3 separate regions of the Homo sapiens genome follow, and all the other regions are linked to region 3. The links come from fine-mapping of genetic effects on gene expression. A gene starts in region 3. Each other region holds a variant in brackets. All regions are shown on one strand. Distances are between the middles of the regions.

Region 1 (4,170 bases), 120 kb before region 3:
GCTTTGTGTTTTTTTGTAGAGACGGGGTTTCAACATGTTGCCCGGGCCAGTCTCAAACTCCTGGGATCTAGCAATCCACCTGCCTCAGCCTCCTGAAGTGCTGGGATTACAGGTGTGACCTACCACACCTGGCTTGGACTTTTTTATTTAAAAAAATCTAATCACATAATCTACTTCCAAAGGCTTATTTTTCAAAATCAGATATTGTGCCACAATATACTGAGAGTCACGGCTGATAACACACCAAACCAGTTACAGAATTTCAGAGCTGGGAGCATTCTTGGATAGACTCTATTTCAGCGTCCTCATTTCATGGACAAGGAAGTGATTGAAGCTCAGAAAAATGAAGTGTATGTAACAGTTTTTCTCCCTCCGTATCTCTTATATACATTATTAAATGACGTGTATCAGGCTGGGCACAGTGGCTCATAATCCCAACACTTTGGGAGGCCGAGGCGGGAGGATCGCTTGAGCCCAGGAGTTCAATGTTTATAGTGAGCTATGATCATGTCACTCTGCACTCCAGCCTGGGTAAGAGAGCCAGACATATCTCAACCAAGTAAGTAATACTAATAACTAACTACCACGTGTCAGCTCAACCCACCAGCCTCTTGCTCAGCAAGTACAGATACTGTGTATGGAGGGCTCTAGGCTAGATGCTTGGGAATCCAGAGAGGAATAATCAACAGTTCTTCCCCCATGGCGCACAGCCTACACGTGGCTTTTTCCTTTGGCATCTGGACCACACCTCCTCTGAGGGCTAATAATGCAGCCTGTGGTCCAGGCAACACCTTGCCATTCTATCAAGACAAGGCTCACTGACCCCATGCTGCAGTGGCTAGAAAGAATGGCTAGCAGCAGTTCCCAACCAGTAGCAATTTTCTTTCCTAGGGGACCTTTGTCAATGTCTGGTTTTAGCTGTCACACTGGGAGGAGTGGGTGCTCCTGGCATCCAGGGACTCGAGGTCAGGCATACTGCCAGACAGCCTGCAGTGCACAGGACAGCCCACGCCGCAGAGCCACGTCCACAGTGCTGAGTCTGAGAAGCCCTGGGCTAGAAACCCTTAGCGCCATTGGCATTGCCCTGCTCAGAGCACCCTGGGCAGTCCTCGGTGAGCCTGTGCTCTCCTGGAAGGCCGAGAGCCTCACTCTCCTGACCCACGATCCCCCTCCTCCAACCCAGGAGTGCACGCCACCCCTCAAACCCTATCTTAAATACCAAGACTCACCTCTCCCACGGAGCAAGGATGGCCGTTGGGACAAGCTGTGAAGAGAACAGGACACACATTGGCTAATGAGGTTTCACCCAATGACCCACATTGAAAAGGGAAAGCTAACTCTCTACTCTCTGGCCCTGACCACAATATGAGAATGACTGTCCAGAGCATCCCACGCTAATTTGTTAAGTTACATGACACCTGCCTGAAGCTTAATAAATGTATGTTGTCAGTGAAAAATGTCTGAGTCTAATTTTATTAATTTTATCAAGTAAAGAGCAATTAGAATATAGGCCCATACCAGGGGTACTTTTGGAGGCAAGGTGGACAGGATTCTAGACCTTTCTATTTTCCTTGATTTTTTTTTTTTTGTCATGAGCATATTTTATAACAACTTTAAAAACTAGTTTTAAAATATTTACTCAGGCAACAGCAAAATTTACATGTCATGGGTTATATGAGTCAGTCTCCCGGTTCTATATTTCATATATTTCAGAAGAGCTTTGTGTCAAAAACTTTGTTTTGTGGTGGGCCTTTGAATGCGTCTCTGATGTGGTTCCCAGTCCCTCCCTTCTCCCAAAATGGCATATTCCAGAGAACAGAAGTGCATCACAGAGGGCCTTTTCCACACGACAAAGAAATGAAATGGTTTGGATCATCTAGCCGGCGGAGTGCCAGCTCCTTCAAGCCATTCGTCTTCTGCAGACGCCACCGGTAGAATGCAGGTGGTTTTGGACCCTGAGGCACAAACCACGTGGACCCCAAGTCGAACCCAATGCTTCATAGCATCTGGACACCCTTTGAAGCTCAAAGGAGTGTGGGGTCATCTAGACCCCAACAC[T/C]TACTGTACCAGTGGACTCGCTCCAGACCCTTCCACCTCCGAGCTTGAGCCAGCAAGTCTTCAGGCATGGTTGGAAGAAAAGCATGCTGAAAAACAAGAAGACAGAGACAGCTCTAGATAAGTGAGCTTGTCACCTGGGTGCTGCTGCTCAGCAGGAGGCCTAGAGGAAGAAAGGGAACTCTGCTTTCCTTCTGCTGGACTTCTCAAGCTGTCTGTGAAGAAAACAGAACAGCTTCCTGTGAAATAACAAAGGGCAAGGCAAGTCTGTCACTATCTTGTGTGCTCAAGAATCAGGTGACACAAAGGCAGAGAACTGAGGAGATAAAGATGCTCAAGAGTTCCCACAGCTGCAGCTCGGTCTCTACAGTGACAAGCTCTGGGGGGTGTTCCAGTGAAGGCCGATGGAATTGTGGCCTACTCTTACCGCCATGGTGGCTGGGGAGAAGGCCAGATTCTTTAGGGGCTCCAAGAGTTCATTCTGTCCACACAGAAGGACGGCTGCAGCATGAATGGCCATTTCTGTCACCGTTCCATCAAGGTTGCTGTCACTAGGCCCCGCCCTCAACAATGGCACAGAATTGTCCACGAGCGATGTTGCAAAACGGCTGATATCAGGAGGTGAAAGGATCTTGCATTCGCCAATGAATTTGCTCACAGCTTCACATTGCTGACAGGAAAAAAACTTAACATTAAGATGTATCAAAGAATATTGTGTGAATTGCTCTTAGACATACACTGACACCAAATACACATCAAATATCAAGGTAAATATGGAGAAATCACCACCATTTGAGGGGGAAATTTTTCAGAGAAGAGAATTGTGCATATACAAACACAGCATCCACATACGTAAGCATTAATTTTGATATTCTATTCTGTTAAACATTATCTTATGTTCTTGGCTTTAGTTTTCATTATAATTCTACAAGCTTTGGGTTAAACAGCTTGGTTATGTGTTCCTCCACATAACAAGGTTGAGAACCTCTATCCTAGATAAAAAAATTATGGTATGATTTGTGTTGATAACTTTCATTCTATTCAATAAAATCCCTCCAAATACTGAGACTTTGAACACAGCCCTGCAGGCGGTTACTCACCTCTGGCGTGGGGTGGAGGCTTGCATTGTGGGATCTGTACAAAATAGCCACCTCTCTAAACAGTGTTAACAGGAAGTAGGCTGACTGCTGGCTTTGGGGGGTCTTGCAGGCCTGCAAAATCAAGGGTATCAAGTAAGAATTTAAAAGCTCAACACATCTTTTTTTTTTGAGATGGAGTCTTGCTCTGTCACCCAGGCTGGAGTGCAGTGGCATGATCTCGGCTCACTGCAACCTCTGCCTCTCGGGTTCAAGCGATTCTAACTCAGCCTCCCGAGTAGCTGGGACTACAGGCACACGCAACCATGTCCGGCTAATTCTTTTTTTTTTTCTTTTAGTAGACACGGGGTTTCACCATGTTTGCCAGGCTGGTCTCAAACTCCTGACCTTGTGATCTGCATGCCTCGGCCTCCCAAAGTGCTAGGATTATAGGATAGACGCCCCCGCACCGCTGCCTGCCAGATCTACCTAAGGGCCAGAGGCCCACGAAGTTTGCATGTGAAAAGAAACTTTTCACATGCCTCAGCCCTCAACCCACCAAAAGGGAAGGAGCCTTTTCCAGGCCTGGACACCTGGGGTCATGCCCCACATGGGCAGTCTTCTGGCGAGCAACTTTTGGGCTACAAAGTTCCTGAAATACTCTCAGATTAAACTCAACGCATATTTAGCAGCCAGCTTAATGACAGAAGCAACGGAATCACCATCTGTTCTTCTGACTCCTTCACTGGTCTTAGAAACTTCTGAGCAGAAAGAGGATTTTCCATTTCCTCTTTTCCTGGCACAGGGACTCAAAAAGGAAGCAAGACCAGACCAATTTAAAGGTTAGATTCTAAAAACATCTTTATATTTTTTAACTTCCCACACTACACCAACATATGTATTTTTATTAAACACACATGCATATCTGAATTATGAATACATCTAGGTATGAATTTTGCTATTAATAGTTGTGTCAGCATCTTTCTTAGACTGTTTTCCAGCAGGGTCTCAAAGGAAGTAATGGGCATAAATCAAAAGG
Region 2 (4,170 bases), 24 kb before region 3:
AGAAACGGGGTTTCACCATGTTGCCCAAGCTGGTTTTGAAATCTCAGGCTCAGGCAATCTGCCCATCTCGGCCTCCCAAGGTCCTGGGATTACAGGCGCGAACCACCATTCCCAGCTGGTTTTAAAAAATGCTCTGTAGAGGCAGAGTCTCCCATGTTGCTCAGGCTGGTCTCCAACACCTAGGCTCAGGCAATCCTCCCATCTTGGCCTCCCAAAGTGTGGGATTACACGCGTGAGCCACCGTGCCTGGCCTGGTTTTGAACATTAGAAAGCACACACAGGCTTTCCACGTTTTATGCACCTCTATAAAAATATTTCGTACATAAAATTTGAAATGAGAAGGATGAGACTAAAAAATGAGTAGCAGCTCCCACCGCACCCTCAGCAGGCACAGCCAGGCTCAAAGGCACATCCAGGTTCAGGTGTACGGTCCCCATTTTGGAACCAGGACTGCGGCTGGTGGGAGGAGGCTGCCAGGACCCTGGGACCCCACAGGCATCTCCCAGGGGGCAGTACTCAGGGGTGCGTGTGGATCAGGTCAGTACAGGAAAGTGACTTGTAGATCCCCTGAAACCTGGTGGTGTGTGATGAGGGCCCCAAACTGCCAGGCAGCAGGTGTGAACCTGTGCCCACTCCACGCCCCCCACCTCCTGCACCCACATACCTGGGAAGACCTGCACACACTGAGGTGCAGCCCAGGGGCTAATCCACCCTCTCCTCAGCAACTGGTAACAAGGGGATGAGGAAGCGCCACAGGATCCCATCACTGCCACTTCAGGAGCCCCTCGGCTGACGGTCGGCCCCTGTGTGGCCCAAGGAGGAGGCTGCGTTCCCACCCACCCAGGGCATGACGAGGCCGCAGCTGGACAGGGCTGCATCCCAGGGCTTCCAGGAGGCCAGGCCGACACTGCAACCCCTTCTCTATCACACATGGCCACACTTCCTGCCAGAACCAGGGCCAGAAATTCCGATTTTCTCCTCCTTTTTAAATTCAGAGGAAACCCATGCTCAGTGTACACAAAGCACAGGAGGCGCCCCCACCCCCCGACCCTCCGACCCATAACATCTCCCCAGGCCACAGCTTGGCTCCAGCCTCCCGCTCGGCCTGCGTCCAACACCGGCCTGCGTCCGACACCAACCCCAGGCCACCAACCCACCACACCGCTGAGAGCACCTGGTCCCATTCCAGGGAGCAAGCACCACTGCTGAAATGGCACACTTGGTGCGTTTGGGTGTGGACAGAGGAGACTCACTCCCAGCGCAGGCTGACTCTAAAACAGGGCCTCACTGAGATCTGGCCACTGCACTCCAGCCTGGGCGACAGAGTGAGACTCCATCTCAAAAATAAAACAATAGGTCAGGTGCGGTGGCTCAGGCCTGTAATCCTAGCACTTTGGGAGGCCGAGGCAGGCGGATCACTGGAGGTCAGGAGTTCGCCACCAGCCTGGCCAACATGGTGAGATCCTCCCCATCTCTACTAAAAACACAAAAAATTAGCTGGGCGTGGTGGCAGGCACCTGCAATCCCAGCTACTTGGGAGGCTGAAGCAGGAGAATTGCTTGAACCCGGGAGGCAGAGGCTGCGGTCAGCCGATATTACGCAACTGCACTCCAGCCTGAGCAATAGAGCAAGACTCCATCTCACAAAAAAAAAAAA[G/AG]CAACTGCAGAAGCAGCTGCAGAAGAAGAGTCTGGGGCTGGGGCCCAGCACTGTAGAGTGGCGTCATCAGCAGGTATCAGCCTCTGAATGACAGGCTGGTCAGCTGCCGGGGGACCTGCTGAGAGGGGGAAGCAAGAGGCCGTCAAGAAACAGGCAGGTGCTGCACAACCCTTCACTGCAGGCACCCATCGTCCTCAGTGTGCTGAGGAGACCTGGCAGGTGGGGTCCCAGCCCTGAAGACAGCCTCCCCTCGGAGAGGCGATGACGCCGTCCCTGCCCGGCCAGCTGCCTGGTACCTCCGGGGCTGCCATGCAGTGGCGTCTGGGCTGGGTTTAGAGGGCCTGCCTGAGTTCCCATCCAGCTCACCCCATGCTACAATGGCTGGGCAACCCCAGGTGGGTCACTGAGCCACCGTGGGCCTCAGTTTCCCCATCTTTAAAGTGGAGACAGCAGATGTGTCCACATCAGAGCATCACTGAGGGTGACCAAATGGGACAAAGCACACGGAGAGTTGTAGGACACTGCCTGGTACACGCAAGGCCCCCATCAGTGATGCTGTGGTCATGGTCACTGTCCACACACAGCAGGTGTTTGTGGCCACCTGGTGACAGCGCTGGATGGCCCATCCTGGGGAATGGTCCCTTGGCTCTCCCTGTTATCGGCTGCATGGTTTGAGTAACATCAGCCTTACTCTAGCCCCAAGGGCAGCTCTTGTGCGTGGGCTGGTGTCAACCACTGATGTCTATCATCCTGGCCATAGGGACCCACTGGGGGATTGGCCTGTGAGCCAATCAGAGCCAATGAGATTTGAGGAAGCGCTTCCTCTCTCCAGAGGAATCAATCACCAGAGGAGGCGCTGTCTTGTCCCCTGAAGGACAGAGTAGCAGGTGGATCACAGGGGAAGCCACTGTGTGGCACGAGGGAGTAACGGGAAACAGCTGATGAGAGGCTCAGTGGGGGAGCCGTCCGGAAGGCAGAGTAGACAGGGCCGGAGACGCCTGCACCAAGCCTCACCTACAGGCTCGGGGCTCATCAGGTGTGTCCATAATAAACTTCCTCAATGGGATTAGAAAGGTGGAGCTGGGCTTTCCATTATTTGCAATTCAAAGGCTTTTTTTTTTTTCTTTTTTTGAGATGGAGTCTCACTCTGTCACCCAGGCTGGAGTGCAGTGGCACAATCTCAGCTCACTGCAACCTCTGTTTCCCGGGTTCATGCCATTCTCCTGCCTCAGCCTCCTGAGTAGCTGGGATTACAGGCACATGCCACCACGCCCAGCTATTTTTGTTTTGTTTTTGTTTTTGTTTTTTTTGAGACGAAGTTTCACTCTTGTTGCCCAGGCTGGAGTGCAATGGCATGATCTGAGCCCATTGCAACCTCCGCCTCCCCAGCTCAGGTGATTATCCTGCCTCAGCCTCCCAAGTAGCTGGGATTACAGGCACCTGCCATCATGCCCGGCTAATTTTTTTTTTTTTGTATTTTTGTACAGATGGGGTTTCACCATGTTGGCCAGGCTGGTCTTGAACTGACCTCAGGTGATCCACCCGCCTCGGCCTCCCAAAGTGCTGGGATTCCAGGCGTGAGCTACTGTGCCCGGCCGTAATTTTCATATTTTTAGTACAGATGGGGTTTCACCATGTTGGCCAGCTAGTCTTGAACTCCTGACCTCAGGTGATCCACCCACCTCGGCCTCCCAAAGTGCTGTGATTACAGGTGTGAGCCACTGTGCCTGGCCATTACCCAAAGATTTCTAATGGTTAAAATAATCAAACCTCAAATTAAGTTTTTCCCTAATTATGAAAGTTGAAAATAAGCCAAGGTCATGGATGCTCTAGCAGCTTCGATGACATAATCAGGCTCTGGCAGAAATAGACGGAGAATCCTGAGGCTCTGGACCGCCGAGTCACAGCCCGGAACAGGAGGAGCCCACTGAGGCAGGCCCCTGACCACCCCCCACCTCCCACCAGCATGGAAGATGCAGGCCCCCTACCGCTTCTTTCCTTGATGTAGCAAAGGGCTCAGACCTTAGGAACAGCTGCCAGCACCCCTCCCCAGGGCCTGCCTTGCAGGAGGGGAGTGGCCAGCCAGGAAGAAACAGCAGCAGCAGCACACGGAGGTTGGGCAGAGCCCGGGGAGGCTGGAGGCAGGAGCCAGGCCTGGCCTCACTCCCTCTGCCCACAACACGGGGCTGTGGAAAGACTGCAGTAAGCGCAGACGCAACTGCAGGAGAGACCCTTGGAGGGACCGTGATCCAGTTCCTGGAAGACCACTGCCCTCAAGCCGCCATCCCAGAACCTCTTTTCAATAGAAACAAAACCAACCATCTGACATCATCACACCTGCAGGGCTGACACCTCGGAGCAGCAGCCCCAGGCTCACCCCCTCAGCTCTTCCCGTGTGAACTGCCACCTGGCCCTGAGTTAGGGACCACTTACTTCTCGGTGAGGACTGGCCGAGTGCCCTGGTAGGCGCCCTGTGCTGCCAGTGCCTCCTGCTGTCTGCTTTTCCATTGAACA
Region 3 (4,170 bases):
CCCCACAGGTGATGGGGCCTGAGCAGGCAGCCCAGGGCTACTGGGCTGGCAGTCAGATTCCTAGTAATGGGGGGAGGCTGCCATCCACAAAGCGCGCCACTCTGCACTGACCACCTGCCCTCAGAACAGCCTCTGCGGTGGATGGCATCAAACCAGACCAAGGCCAGGACTCAGGCCTCCGGGGTCACTTCTTGCATCCAGGGTGAGAGTGGAGATGGCGTTTGGGCGCTTGGCCACCTAACAGTGGAGGACCTGACTCTCTCCCTCCCCAGTAAGAAGCCTCAGGGCACACTGGCCCACCCACCACCTTCTTCTGCTGGCTTGGAACCAAAGAACTCCACTGGGGCAGTGGCTGGAGCGGCAGCTGACTGGTGCCTTCAGCAGCCAGGAGGACACTCAGGCCCCCTCCCTGCCCTGGCCCTGCCCTCTCCTCCCACTGGGGTGGGCTCACTCAGGCTGGGCCTGAACGAGGGACGGAGGCACTGGGTGGGGTTCCCTGGCTTGACCTGTGTGGGAGACTAATCTATGCCACCCCAAAACAGATTCTGTGGTCAATTTTGAGATGGCTATTCAGAGCAACCACATACTCAGGAGTTCTGGGAAGCTATCCTTTTGTAAAAGGCTATAAAGGAAATCCACACCATGAAACAGCAGAATGGAGCAGAAGCTCTCTCTGAGGCCCCATTATCTGCCTAGAGGGATCTAGGAACGGTCCCAGGGACACACAAGAGGAGTGCCTGCGGCCTCGCCAGTTCCTCTGAGAGCAGCTCTGAGATCACCTGAGTGATTATCTGCACAACAAGACAACCCTGCACACCTCCCCTCTCCAGCCCCAAGCCCCTGTCCCAATGCCATAAAAACATCAATCATCTGTCTTCTGCAGTCTTCTCTTTGATGAGGTTCCCAATAGGTGTATGGGACAATTTGCATCCCTTTTCTCCAGGTCTGCTGCCCTTTTATTCCAGAGACTAAAATTATCTCTCCTTCAGAGTAGAAGGAGAGTTTAAAACTCCCCTACCCCTGCCACAGCCAAGCCCTGGCTCCCACCGTACCTCCTCCCCTCCACACTCTACCTGAAACAACCACCAGTGGACACTCCCTCCCTCAAACACCTTCAATGACTCCCCACCGCCCAGGCCTCTTTCTTTCCACCCGAAGTGTTTCCTTCTCCAATGCTACACTGGGGAACCACAGACCAGAAAACTCGAAAAATCCTCCAAAAAGCATTTTTTGTTTGTTTGACAGTTTCACCCAGGCTGGAGTACAGTGGGCAATCTCAGCTCACTGCAACCTCCGCCTCCCGGGCTCTAGCGATTCTCCCGCCTCAGTCTCCCAAGTAGGTGGAGTTACAGGCATGCGCCACCACACCCGGCTAATTTTTTGTGTTTTTAGTAGAAACGGGGTTTCATGTTGGCCAGGCTGGTCTCGAACTCCCGACCTCAGGTGACCCACCCGCCTTGGCCTCCCAAAGTTTTGGGATTACAGGCATTAGCCACTGCGCCCGGCCCCCTAAAGCATCTTATTGTTCCATCTGCTCTAGGGGCCGGAAGACACAAGAGAGAGCCCCAGGCACCCAACACTGTTGCATTCAATCCGCTTCCTGTCTTTTCTCTGACATTTTTTCCCAAGCACAGACACTGCCACCCAAATCAAAGCCCATCCCCCAACCACAACCAAAGTCAACAAGGTGGGGGCAGGGAAGGGCCACCACCATGTTTGCACAGCTCCTTCCCCTCCCGCCCTGGACTCCCCCAGGGCCCGGCCCGCCGGCTTGCAGGCAGCCATCCGGGAGGGGTGCCCACCCTGGCCTTGAGCCCCGCGCTCGGGCGACTTCGCCAAGTCGGAAGGACGCTGCGCGGTGCGGTTCAGACGGGGCGATGCCTCCCTCGTAAAAGTTAGGAGTCTGTTTTTGCAACTTCACTTTTCCGTTGTTGCCATTCGTACAGGCGCAGGATTCCCGGGCGGACCTGCAGGCCCGGGTCCGGCTGTCCCCTTCCACTACACCCCCCGTGCCCCGGCCACTTCCCGGGGGCAGCACTGCCGGGGCGCAAAGCCTCCTCCGCGCTCTGCGCTCCGGGGATGTCGCCGGGGTCCCAGGCGTGCCCGCTGCCCCCACCCCGACCCCTCCCGCAGCCGGGGAACAGGGTCAGTGGGCGCCGCGGGCGGGGCTGGACCGGGCACCCCGGCGGCGAAACCGAAACTTGGAGCCGGCAGGAAGAGGCGGCCGGGAGGGGCATCCGGACGCAGGCGCCGCTCCCCGGGACCCGGCCCGCCGGCCCGCGGGGCCCACTGTATCCTAGCCCGCTCCCCGCCCCGGGAGACTCTCCAGGCCCGCTCGCACCTGCGGCCCCCGAGCTCGCCGCCTGCCGCGCGCTGTCGCCCCTCGGGTCACGGGGCCCTGGGCCCCGCCCTGCCCGCCGCCGCCGCCGCCGGCCCCGCCCTGCCCGCCGCCGCCGCCGCCGGCCCCGCCCTGCCCGCCGCCGCCGCCGCCGGCCCCGCCCTGCCCGCCGCCGCCGCCGCCGGCCCCGCCCTGCCCGCCGCCGCCGCCGCCGGCCCCGCCCTGCCCGCCGCCGCCGCCGCCGGCCCCGCCCTGCCCGCCGCCGCCGCCGCCGGCCCCGCCCTGCCCGCCGCCGCCGCCGCCGGCCCCGCCCTGCCCGCCGCCGCCGCCGCCGGCCCCGCCCTGCCCGCCGCCGCCGCCGCCGGCCCCGCCCTGCCCGCCGCCGCCGCCGGCCCCGCGCAGGCGTGTGCGGAATTCCCCGCCGGTGGCGCCTCCCAGTGACTCCGGGCCCCCAGCCCCCGGGAGGCGCCTCGGGCCGCTGCGCGCCGGGTACAGACGCGGGAGGGGCCTCGGTTCCCGCCAGGCGTGGGGCGCATGCGGGTCTCCCGGAAGCCCAGACCCCGGGCAGGCCCGAGCAGCCGAGTGGGGCGGGACAGGCGCGCCCCCCGCCCCGGCGCCCAGCACCTCGGACAGTGTCTGCGGCCGCGCAGAGCCGGCGGCCAGCCTGGGAGCGGCCCAGAGGGCGCCCGGCGGGTGCAGTGGACGTCGTCAGCGCGCCGCGTGGGGGCCTTTGCAGATTAAGGGACCTCCGCGGCCCCGCGCGGAGCGCTCTGTCACTGATGATGGAGGGGCCACGGCGGTCCGCACCATCCCCCGTGCCTCAGTTTTCCCATCTGTGAGGCTCATGGTGTGACCAGGGACCTCCGTTTTAAAATCACCCACTTTCTTTTTCTTCCTTCTCCTCTCACCCCTTCATCCCGTCCCTCTCTGGACACTGCGCCCCTCTGCGCATTCCAGAGGGGACCCTCATCCTGAAACAATTCCCGGCGCGGAACCCCAGCTGAATGCTCCTGCTTGGGGCGGGGGGTCGCCAACAATTAGTCCAACATCCTCGACAGCCACCCCTCCTAACCGACAACTGCCCACGACAGCCATGGGAACAAGACACAGACCCTGCCCTTACCCCACTCCCCACGGTGCCCACGGCAAGTTTCCCTAGAAGAACTCGATGGCAGCCTGGGCAACATAGAGAGACCCCATCTCTACAAAAAAAATCATTTAAAAAAATTAGCTGGGCGTGGTGGTGCACCTGAAGAGGCTGAGGCAAGAGGATCGTTTGAGCCCAGGGAGCTCCAGGCTGCAGTGAGTCGTGATCATACCACTGCACTCCAGCCTGGATGACAAAGTGAGATCTTGCCTCAAAAACTAACAAACACACAAAACCTGAGGATAAATTTTTAATTTTAGGGTGGCACTTTATTTATTGTTTGTTTGTTTTTTGGAGACAGTCTCACTCTATACCCCAGGCTGGAGTGCAGTGGCGTGATCTTGGCTCACTGCAAACTCCACCTCCCAGTTCAAGTGATTCTCATGCCTCAGCCTCCCGAGTAGCTGGGATTACAAGCGCCCGCCACCAAGCCTGGCTAATTTTTGTATTTTTAGTAGAGACGGGGTTTCTCCATGTTGGCCAGGGTGGTCTCAAACTCCTGACCTCAGGTGATCCACCTGCCTTGGCCTCCCAAAGTGCTGGAATTACAGGCATGAGCCACTGCGCCCAGCCAAGGTGACACTTTAGAACGCTAGTTGGGCATCTTCTCGCTTTGCTGGGTCTCCAATTAAAACCTGCTTTTTCCTCCCACCAATCTTGACTGCACCACTGCACTCCAGCCCTG

Direction of the effects. Alleles are on the strand shown, and positions count from the first base shown. SD is a standard deviation of normalised expression in the study named. Not every link is listed here.
In carriers of allele AG in region 2, the expression in subcutaneous fat of the gene that starts at base 2,392 in region 3 tends to be higher than with G alone (moderate effect, 0.69 SD a copy in TwinsUK).

Evidence for each region. PIP is the estimated chance that this variant, and not a neighbour inherited with it, causes the effect. A credible set is the group of variants that fine-mapping cannot tell apart.
Region 1: its variant is the best candidate, but not a certain one, in a credible set for the expression of RNF213 in whole blood (INTERVAL, PIP 0.67).
Region 2: its variant is the best candidate, but not a certain one, in a credible set for the expression of RNF213 in subcutaneous fat (TwinsUK, PIP 0.71).

Annotation. Positions count from the first base shown.
Region 1 is chr17:80,374,856-80,379,025 of GRCh38, reverse strand. RNF213 (ring finger protein 213) reads right to left here. Exons shown (of 68, transcript NM_001256071.3): 51 at 3,156-3,266; 52 at 2,483-2,725; 53 at 2,063-2,144; 54 at 1,230-1,264. All of the region lies in intron 1 of RNF213-AS1 (RNF213 antisense RNA 1), which reads left to right. Among named protein-coding and RNA genes, the nearest start is that of ENDOV, 38 kb to the left of the region's middle. RefSeq lists a silencer at 2,270-2,470. The variant T/C (reference allele first, on the strand shown) is at 2,059.
Region 2 is chr17:80,283,161-80,287,330 of GRCh38, reverse strand. All of the region lies in intron 3 of RNF213 (ring finger protein 213), which reads right to left. Among named protein-coding and RNA genes, the nearest start is that of RNF213, 24 kb to the right of the region's middle. RefSeq lists an enhancer at 2,037-2,597. The variant G/AG (reference allele first, on the strand shown) is at 1,657.
Region 3 is chr17:80,259,074-80,263,243 of GRCh38, reverse strand. RNF213 (ring finger protein 213) reads right to left here and starts at 2,392. Exons shown (of 68, transcript NM_001256071.3): 1 at 2,342-2,392. RefSeq lists silencers at 1,515-1,654, 2,035-2,384, 2,664-3,013.